2 linked regions of the Homo sapiens genome follow. The protein of the gene in region 1 interacts with the protein of each later gene in a biochemical or structural test. Each region holds a gene or a part of one and is shown on either strand. Other genes may lie near its edges. The genes, in order: S100Z and SLC8A1.

Region 1 (4,501 bases):
CCTAAGCAGTCATCCCATGGATACTATGAATAGCCCAGCTGATAAGATAGGATAAGACAGATAATGTATCCTCTTTTTCTTTGGCTGCTAGAAAGCCTAGAATCAAGTTCATGAGCCACCTAGGCCGAATACTTGATTTTACCACATGCTGCAAACTCAAATACCTACAGCCGGGTCATGTTCAAACTTTGCTGTTTTTTGTTTGTTTGTTTGTTTTTTGAGACAGAGTCTCACTCTGTCACCCAGGCTGGAGTGCAGTGCAGTAGCGGGATCTCAGCTCACTGCAACCTCCGCCTCCTGGGTTTAAGCAATTCTTGTGCCTTAGCCTCCTGAGTAGCTGGGATTACAGGTGTGCACCACCATTCCTGGCTATTTTTTTGTATTTTAGTAGAGATGGGTTTTCACCATGTTGGCCAGGCTATTCTCAAACTTTGGCCTCAAGCAATCCACCCACCTCAGCTTCCCAAAGTACTGGGGTTACAGGTGTGAGCCATTACACCCAGCCCAAACTATTTAACAACAGATACAACAGAGGCACTAAGCAGAATGAAAAGCAGTTGTGAACAGGGAGCATCAGCCTGCTTCCACGGCCAGGCTGCTAGTGTAAACAGGCAAAATTGAGACTAAGAAAAAAAAAATATCTTGACTAATTTTTTTTATTACATTTGATAGAAGGGTGAGTTCAGAGAAATAGTCCATGCTGATAAGAGGACCGACACTGCTTCAGTGCCAGACAGCCAAGTGGAGTGGAGGCCAGTGGGAAATTGGAGAGCCCGTGCTCTCCCAAGAAGGCGAGACTGCTTCTCAGACCCAGATCATCGTTGCCAGATGGGATATGGCTCAGAGCTCCCAGAACTTCACTTTTTTTTTTTTTAAAAGAAAAAGTGAGAAATTTTAATTTTTAAGAATTCCTGGATTTTAAGACTGCAACTCAAGACAAACAAACAAAACCCACCAAAACCCAACAGACAAACATAAGACTGCAGGACAACTCAAACAGGAAATTCAGCGAATGCTGGCCAGCTTGTGACTTCTGCTTTCTGCTGTGTACTTTATATTTAACCTCATTCCTTCCTCTACTTTACATCTCGTTCTTTTCTGTCTGCTTTCTCTCCTACTTAATTTATAATATCTTACTCTACTTTGTGTTATCTTCATATGTCACCTTAAATCCTACCTAGGACCCAGGAGAGTATAAATAAACTGACCACAGGACATCTCCACTTAGGTAACACATCAGAGTCTCAGATTCCAAACCACAGCAAACTGATTTTGGCATTTTCCAATCCCCTGCTCCCTTCTTCCTCTACCCCAGAGGGGATCCCCTTTTTTTGCTGCTCCAGTCAACAGCAATACCCTCATTCACCCAACTGCATGGCCAGAAACCTGAGTATGATGCTATTCCTGGCCCCTCTCTCTCTCTCATGCAATCAGTTGCCAGGTTGTATCTCCTCACTCTCTGTTCCTTCCTCCTCAACCCTAGCGCCATAGTTCAGGCCCTTGTCACTTCTGGCCTGAATTACTGCATGAGATCCCAACTCACCTCCTGCACCTACTTTGCTCTTCTTCAAAATTAGCCTCCCCTGCCTGCTGGGAGGCACACCTGAGCTCCTCACTTAACCTCCTGGACAGGCCCTGCCATCCCCTGGCTAAATCTAAACTCCCCGCAGTGTGCCCACCCATCCCCTCTGCACCATCTGTGCCGCACACGTGGCACTGCCACTGTGCTGCCCATTCCTCTGCTCAGGTGCCAGTCCTCCAGGGAAGCCTCCGATGCCCCTCAGCTCCTGGGAGCACTCCGCCTCTGGGTGCCCCTGTATCACCTCATGCTTTCCTCTAGACCTGCACCGGCACTGGGTTGAAGGAAAATAATAGTAGCCAACGTTAATTAGCACATACTCTGGGCCAAGCACCCTTCTAGGCAGTTTAAATGTATTCCTTTATGTCATCCTCAAAAATCCCATGAGGAGGCTGGGGAGCGGTGGCTCATGCCTGTAATCGCAGCACTTTGGGAAGCCAAGTGGGAGGTGGAGGTTGCAGTGAGCTGAGATCACACCACTGCACTCCAGCCTGGGTGACAGAGTGAAACTCCATCTCAGAAAAAAACAAAAAACAAAAAAAACTTTATTTCTCTGTCTAACCCAAATTTTGTGTCCTCTCACCAACTTCTCCCCAGCCCCTCCATCCCTCTTCCCTCTCTTCTTCTGTAGGCTGAGAGCAGCCATTCCAGGGCTGATTGTCCAGGCATGCCCAGCACTGGCCAGTGTGAAGAGGAGGAGCATAGACCACTGCTGTGACTTCCTGGGAGTGGGCTTACACTGGCATCTGTGCAGGCTTCAGGAAAAAGAAGCGAAATCACGGCGTGGATCTAAGGGGCCAAGCCTCACCTTGAAGGTTCTTCTGGGTCTTTGGCCTGGACAAGAACATGAAACTTGAATTTCTCAAGGTGAGGTGAAGGCCAAGCAGGAAGCCAGGATGGTCACCAGGAAAGGAGCCAGAATGAACTAAGTGTTCTTTAGGGCAAGGAACTTACCAGAACCTCTACGCTCCGAGCTATGATCAGGCTGCTCTCTCCCTCTCTCTCTCTCTCTCTCTCTCCCCCACCCCCCCGACCCCTTTGTGGCCAAGGTAAGGCCACATTTTAGAGTGGAAGCCCCAAGGCAACCCCCCACCTCACAACCTCCACTCTTGTTGCCCTCTCTAATCCAACGCCTGCCAGGCTCACACTTCAACCACTAGACTGAAAAGCAAGAATCTTCCACAAAAATAATCTTTTACCTTAGACCTGCTTCCTGTGCAGATGAGATAAGGAGAATGCTCTTGTCTGAATTTCTGGGCGTGGAGATTAGCAAGCCGTTTTCCTCCCAGCAGCTAGAGCGAGCAAGAGGCCCTGCTGTGAGTAGTGCTGTTCTGAGTCTGCGTGGTCCAGACTCACCACACTGCAGGCACGTTTCTTCATCAGGTGGGAAAGCAGGAAGAGGTTTAATTTAGGACCTAAAGCTGGTATATTGCTGAGTAAAAGAAATGGGAAGGCACCAAGTCTCTAACGAAATTGCGCTGGGTGCAGTGGCTCATGCCTCTAATCCCAGCACTTTGAGAGGCTGAGGTGGGTGGATCACTTGCGGTCAGGAGTTTGAGACCAGCCTGGTCAACGTGGCGAAACCCCATCTCTACTAAAAATATAAAAATTAGCCAGGCATGGTGGCGGGCGCCTGTAATTCCAGCTACTCGTGAGGCTGAAGCAGGAGAACGCTTGAACCTGAGAGGCAGAGGTTGTAGTGAGCTGAGCTCGCCGCTGCCCTCCAGACTAGGTGACAGAGCCAGATTCCGTCTCAAAAAAACAAAAAAAAAAGAAAAAGAAACTGCTTGTGATCCAACACTCCCCCACTGGTGCCTCCTCATGGTGAAGAGCAATTACTCTGGCACCAGAGTCTTGGGGTTCAAATCCTTACTTCACCAGTATGTGACTGGAAAAGCTACCTAACCTGCCTGCTGAAGCTTCATGGCTAATAATTCCTCACAGCATTTCTTTTTTTCTTTTTTTTTTTTGAGACAGAGTCTTGCTCTGTCACCCAGGCTGGAGTGCAGTGGCATCATCTCAGCTCACTGCAACCTCCACCTCCCTGGTTCAAGCTTCTGCCTCAGCCTCCCAAGTAGCTGAGATTACAAGCGCCCACCACTAAGCCTGGCTAATTTTTGTATTTTCAGTAGAGATGGGGTTTCACCATGTTGGTGAGGCTGGTCTTGAATTCCTGACCTCAAGTGATCCGCCCACCTTGGCCTCCCAATGTGCTGGGATTATAGGCGTGAGACACTGCGCCTGGCCCAGGAGGAATAAGTTTAAGAGCTCCCATTGTACAGCATGCTATCTATAGTTAATAACAATATATCGTGTATCGAAAATTGCTAAGACAGTAGATGTTAAGTGTCTTTATCACCCCCAAAAAATGACAAGTATATGGGGCAATTAAGTCAAATAGCTTGACTTAATAATTCCACAATGTATACATAAATTAAAACATCAAGCTGTATTTGTATACCATAATATATACAATTTTTACTTGTCAATTAAATAAATAAATACACAGAAAAGGGCAGAGACAGGTCAAGAAGCACAGCACTCAGTACAGAAATACAGATAACAATATATTGAAAGAAAGAATTCAAAGATAAATTTTTTTTTTTTTTTTTTGGAGACAGAGTCTTGCTCCATTGCCTAGGGTAGAGTACAGAGACACAATCACAGCTCTCTGCAACCTCAACCTCCCAGGCTCAAGTGATCCTCCCACTTCAGCCTCCCAAATAGCTAGGACTGCAGGGTATGCCACCACAACCTGGCTAATACTTGTATTTTTTTGTAGAGATGGGGTTTCACCATGTTGCTTGCCCAGTCTAGTCTTGAACTCCTGGGCTCAAGTGATCCTCCCAGCCTGGCTTCCCAGAGTGCTGGGATTACAGGCACCAGCCACCGCACCCGGCCAAAGATATGTTCTGAAGATTG
Region 2 (3,816 bases), on another chromosome or scaffold:
AACTGTACATGGTGAGAGAAAAGTGAAAAGGAAAAAAGTTTTCCTTCCTTCAAAATACACTAAATTTGCTTATCACCTTTAAAATTTGGACTGAATGTTTAAACTTTAAACACAAAGCAAAGGGAGATGCTCTTAAATGTGAAATCTGAAGCAAAGATTGCATTTTTGCAAAGCTATCCAGAAGATGTGTTAATTATTGAGACATGGGATTCATTAACACATCAGCGCCCAACCACTGCCTCTCCTGCCCCCATTCACACATTATCCACAATCAAATAAGCAGCTAAGCAGGGGAAACCTATCACTGTTAATGTCATAATCACATCACCACTGAATTACCAGATGTGGTCAGGAACTAGGCAAAGTAGGTGGGACCAATCCTAGGACTGGGGCCATACCACAACCTCAGCTCAGCCCCTTGTCGGATACGGTTTCTGAATTTAGTACAATGCCAGAAGTATTTTTTTTCTTTCAGCTGTGAACCAGCCTGTTTTGTTTGACAAGCCTTTCCAGATTCATGCAGCTCAATCACGTGCTTGTTGCCAGTTTGAGAGTGAACCTATTATTTCAAACTTGTTGCCGTGACCAATTTTTACAAAACTGAAAGTAGCACTGTGAGGTGGATTGGACCTAGTGATGAGGTGTCTACACTTGCATCCTTTTCTTCCAAGAGAATATTCTGACACTCCAACTCTAGAAGTCATGTCATTAGTAAAATGAAAATAATAATTGCTTAATCACTGTTTAGAATTAGTTCATACTTCTTCAGAGCTTGAAGCCTCCACGACTCAACATCAGATCCATGGATAGTATTACTATACCTTTACCCAAAGACTGGATTTATTTTGTAAAAATATCAGAATGGGTCTGGGTCCCTTTAAAGCAACTGACAAGGTATTTAACAACATTTTAAAACAATGAAGAAAGGATGATTCTGCAGAGGCTGCTGGGTTACAGAGGAGGGCAGAGCTTTTGTCAGACTCTCTTGATGTTTTGCTCTTCCTGGTAAGTTTTTATCTATCATGGTTCCCAGTGGAATATTCTCCATACACATTCTGTGGGAGGATATTGACATGGCTCTAGACTCTGCCTTTTATTTTCTAATTCTCCTTGGAGAATTAGAACAGGCATTCCAGAACTTGTAATATAGAGGGGAAGAAAGAAAAAATGGCAGATGCCTCATTGATGGATCCACAAGTTTTGTACAAAAGCACACACCATTCTGATTGTCTCTATATTAACATTGTACTCACCAAACAGCTTTCTAAAGGTGACTGGAACAAGATAAATATCAACTGGATAATTACCTAAGGAAAAAGAATAAAAAAGAAATCAAACCAAAAAAAAAGCAAAAAATTGGTCAGTTTAGCAAGCGTGTTTTCCAGGATCATAGGCTCATAAACTATACAGTCAAGAGAGTGAAACAATTTTAAAATCAAAAGTTAGAGCCTTTTATATTTCTTCAGATGTACAATTTCATAAATCAAGCATTTATTTTGTGCAAAGTATTATATTAGGTACCCTAAATGGTATATAAAGAATTCAAAACAGAGTAATTTAAGAAAATTAACACTAGTCTTTGATTTAGTCAGGAAGAGTCCACTTATGGCATTCTAATTAAATTAACCTTCCATTTTGGTCTACATTTTATCAATTTGAGATTGCTTAATGGGGCCATTTTGAAACCTATCAAGAAACTTTCCTCTAACAGAAATAGAAATATTAATTTTCTTAATTTCACATTCTGTCTTCCACTAATAAGATAAATGGATTCAGACCCAACACACACATCCAGAGATTACCATGAGCCAAGACCTGTGTAAGTTTGATATAGGGTCTTTTATTCAACATTTCAAGTTGGGAAAATCTTATTACAAAGATCATTTGCCTCACCATTGCTGAATTCTTTTACTAGGTGTTGATGCTAATTCATCACTGGATTTTCTTAACTCTGCCTGTTGCTCTTTTGGACTTTGAGGCATGTGGTTCTATTTCAGTGAGTTACAACTCCAGCTCTCATCTTTTAACAGCAAACTAGAGAACATCTCACTCTTCATCTCTGAGGACACAGTGTTCTCTTCATTTTAACATCAAAAAGTCACCAGAGAGAAGACCCAAAGGCTTTTCTCTTTGGAAAAGGAATCTTTAATTGTTTCAGAGGGTGAGGAATCTTCAGCTCTCTCTGGACTTGATTGTCCTCATCATTAAATGGGAAGACTTTACCTTTAGCTTGATTTTCCAGAACACATCAAGCCCCGTATGGTCAGTGTTTCCCTGTTATCATCCACTTATGTGTATGGGTTGAAGGTACTTTAAGTTGTGAGCCAGCTGCTGCCCATATTGGGTCACCAATGCACTTGTCAAGCCCATGTAACCACATGAAGTTTGATAGAAATATAAACATTTATTTTGAAATAATTCCATGTGCACGGTTGGAAAAACAGTCTCCCTTCCCTGAGAGGAATGAGTAATTTCTCCCTTTTCAAGAAGTGTACAGTAGAAAATGTAATGAGATTGGAATGGATTCCAAATCAGTGACCTTTTTAAGGCTGAAACCACTATTTTAAATGAAAACTTTAAGTTCATACAGTTTCTTATAGTAATTCTACTTTTATTTTTTAGTCAGTGTGCTTAATCTTTTAGGAAAAAAAACTAACCAGTTATTTTTTACTAAAGTATGTGAATTACAAACAGGATGTGCAATGACCAGGCAGAAAGATATTTAAAGGTGTAATTATTCTAAAGGAAGATGAGAAAAAATTCATCTGCTACAGATTCAACTGTCTTTTAAATGCCTCCCTTGTCATGGAGTAAATGACTACTCAAAAGGATTTCACAAAAGACTTAAATCTCACCCTTAGCAATCAACCGGTCGGCCACAGCTCAGATGCCTCATTAGCAAAATGAAATTGCACAACAGACGAAACATAGCAAAAGAATGTAGACATTTCCATGGGGTGGAAGAAAAGAAGAAAGAAAAAGCAACCATAGTGAACTCTGCTTGCATAAACAAAGAATGTTTTAGTGGAATAAATGTAAGCTTTCTCTTGAAGGAATCCCAGTTAGAATGTCATTGGAAACGGCAAAACTATTTCAGCTTCATAGCAGTAATATATTCCAACTTTATTACCACTGAGGCACAAAGCTAAATTTGTCAGGGGGAAAGGTAAGCAAAAATTACTGACATTGCAACCGATAAAATGATCTTGTGAGACTCAATATTGAGAAAGAAAATTAAAATAGCTAATATTTCTGTTATAATTCCAGTGATTACTAAGACTTCTGCCAAGGGATAAAATTACTTTTCCTTCTCTCATTATAAATTTCTATATAGAGCTATTTTAATGCAGTAAGGACTGTATTTTCATATTTTAATAAATCCCTCACGTTGAATTTGCCCCCCATTTCAGATTTGATTAGGAAATACTAAATTGAGAAGGCAGGTTTTTCCATCTTTTTAAAAACAAGTATGCACCATAAGCATTTTCAGCGGATGTCTGCCTTAAGCAATCTTGGTAGAGCTGTCAATCAGTGGCAGGTGCTTGTTTAAGGAAGAGAACCTGTGAATAGATTTAGCCTTTCTTCCTCACAGACAGCTGCTCATTCACACACGCTCATCTCGTCTTCCTCAACTTCTTGCACCAATCCCGCCTCTTGGATTGACCCACATCCACCTAGCAGTTGAACAAACTGCAGATTCTAATTACATGTCCCGACAGTTGCTCAACTTAATTTTTCACCAACTGAATTTCATGCATTGCCCCTTGATGTTCCTTCCCTCTGTTCACTCTTTTCTATAAGTCCTTGCATTTGATA

Evidence for each region.
Region 2: the proteins of S100Z (region 1) and SLC8A1 interact in a biophysical measurement, tested with the Homo sapiens proteins (one large-scale study listed by IntAct).

The regions. Positions count from the first base shown.
Region 1 is NC_000005.10:76,848,433-76,852,933, reverse strand, and holds the start of S100Z (protein S100-Z), read right to left. Parts: upstream 2,921-4,501; 5' UTR 2,779-2,920; intron 1-2,778.
Region 2 is NC_000002.12:40,102,400-40,106,215, reverse strand, and holds part of SLC8A1 (sodium/calcium exchanger 1 isoform A precursor), read left to right. Parts: 3' UTR 1-3,816. UniProt on the Homo sapiens protein: Mediates the exchange of one Ca(2+) ion against three to four Na(+) ions across the cell membrane, and thereby contributes to the regulation of cytoplasmic Ca(2+) levels and Ca(2+)-dependent cellular processes.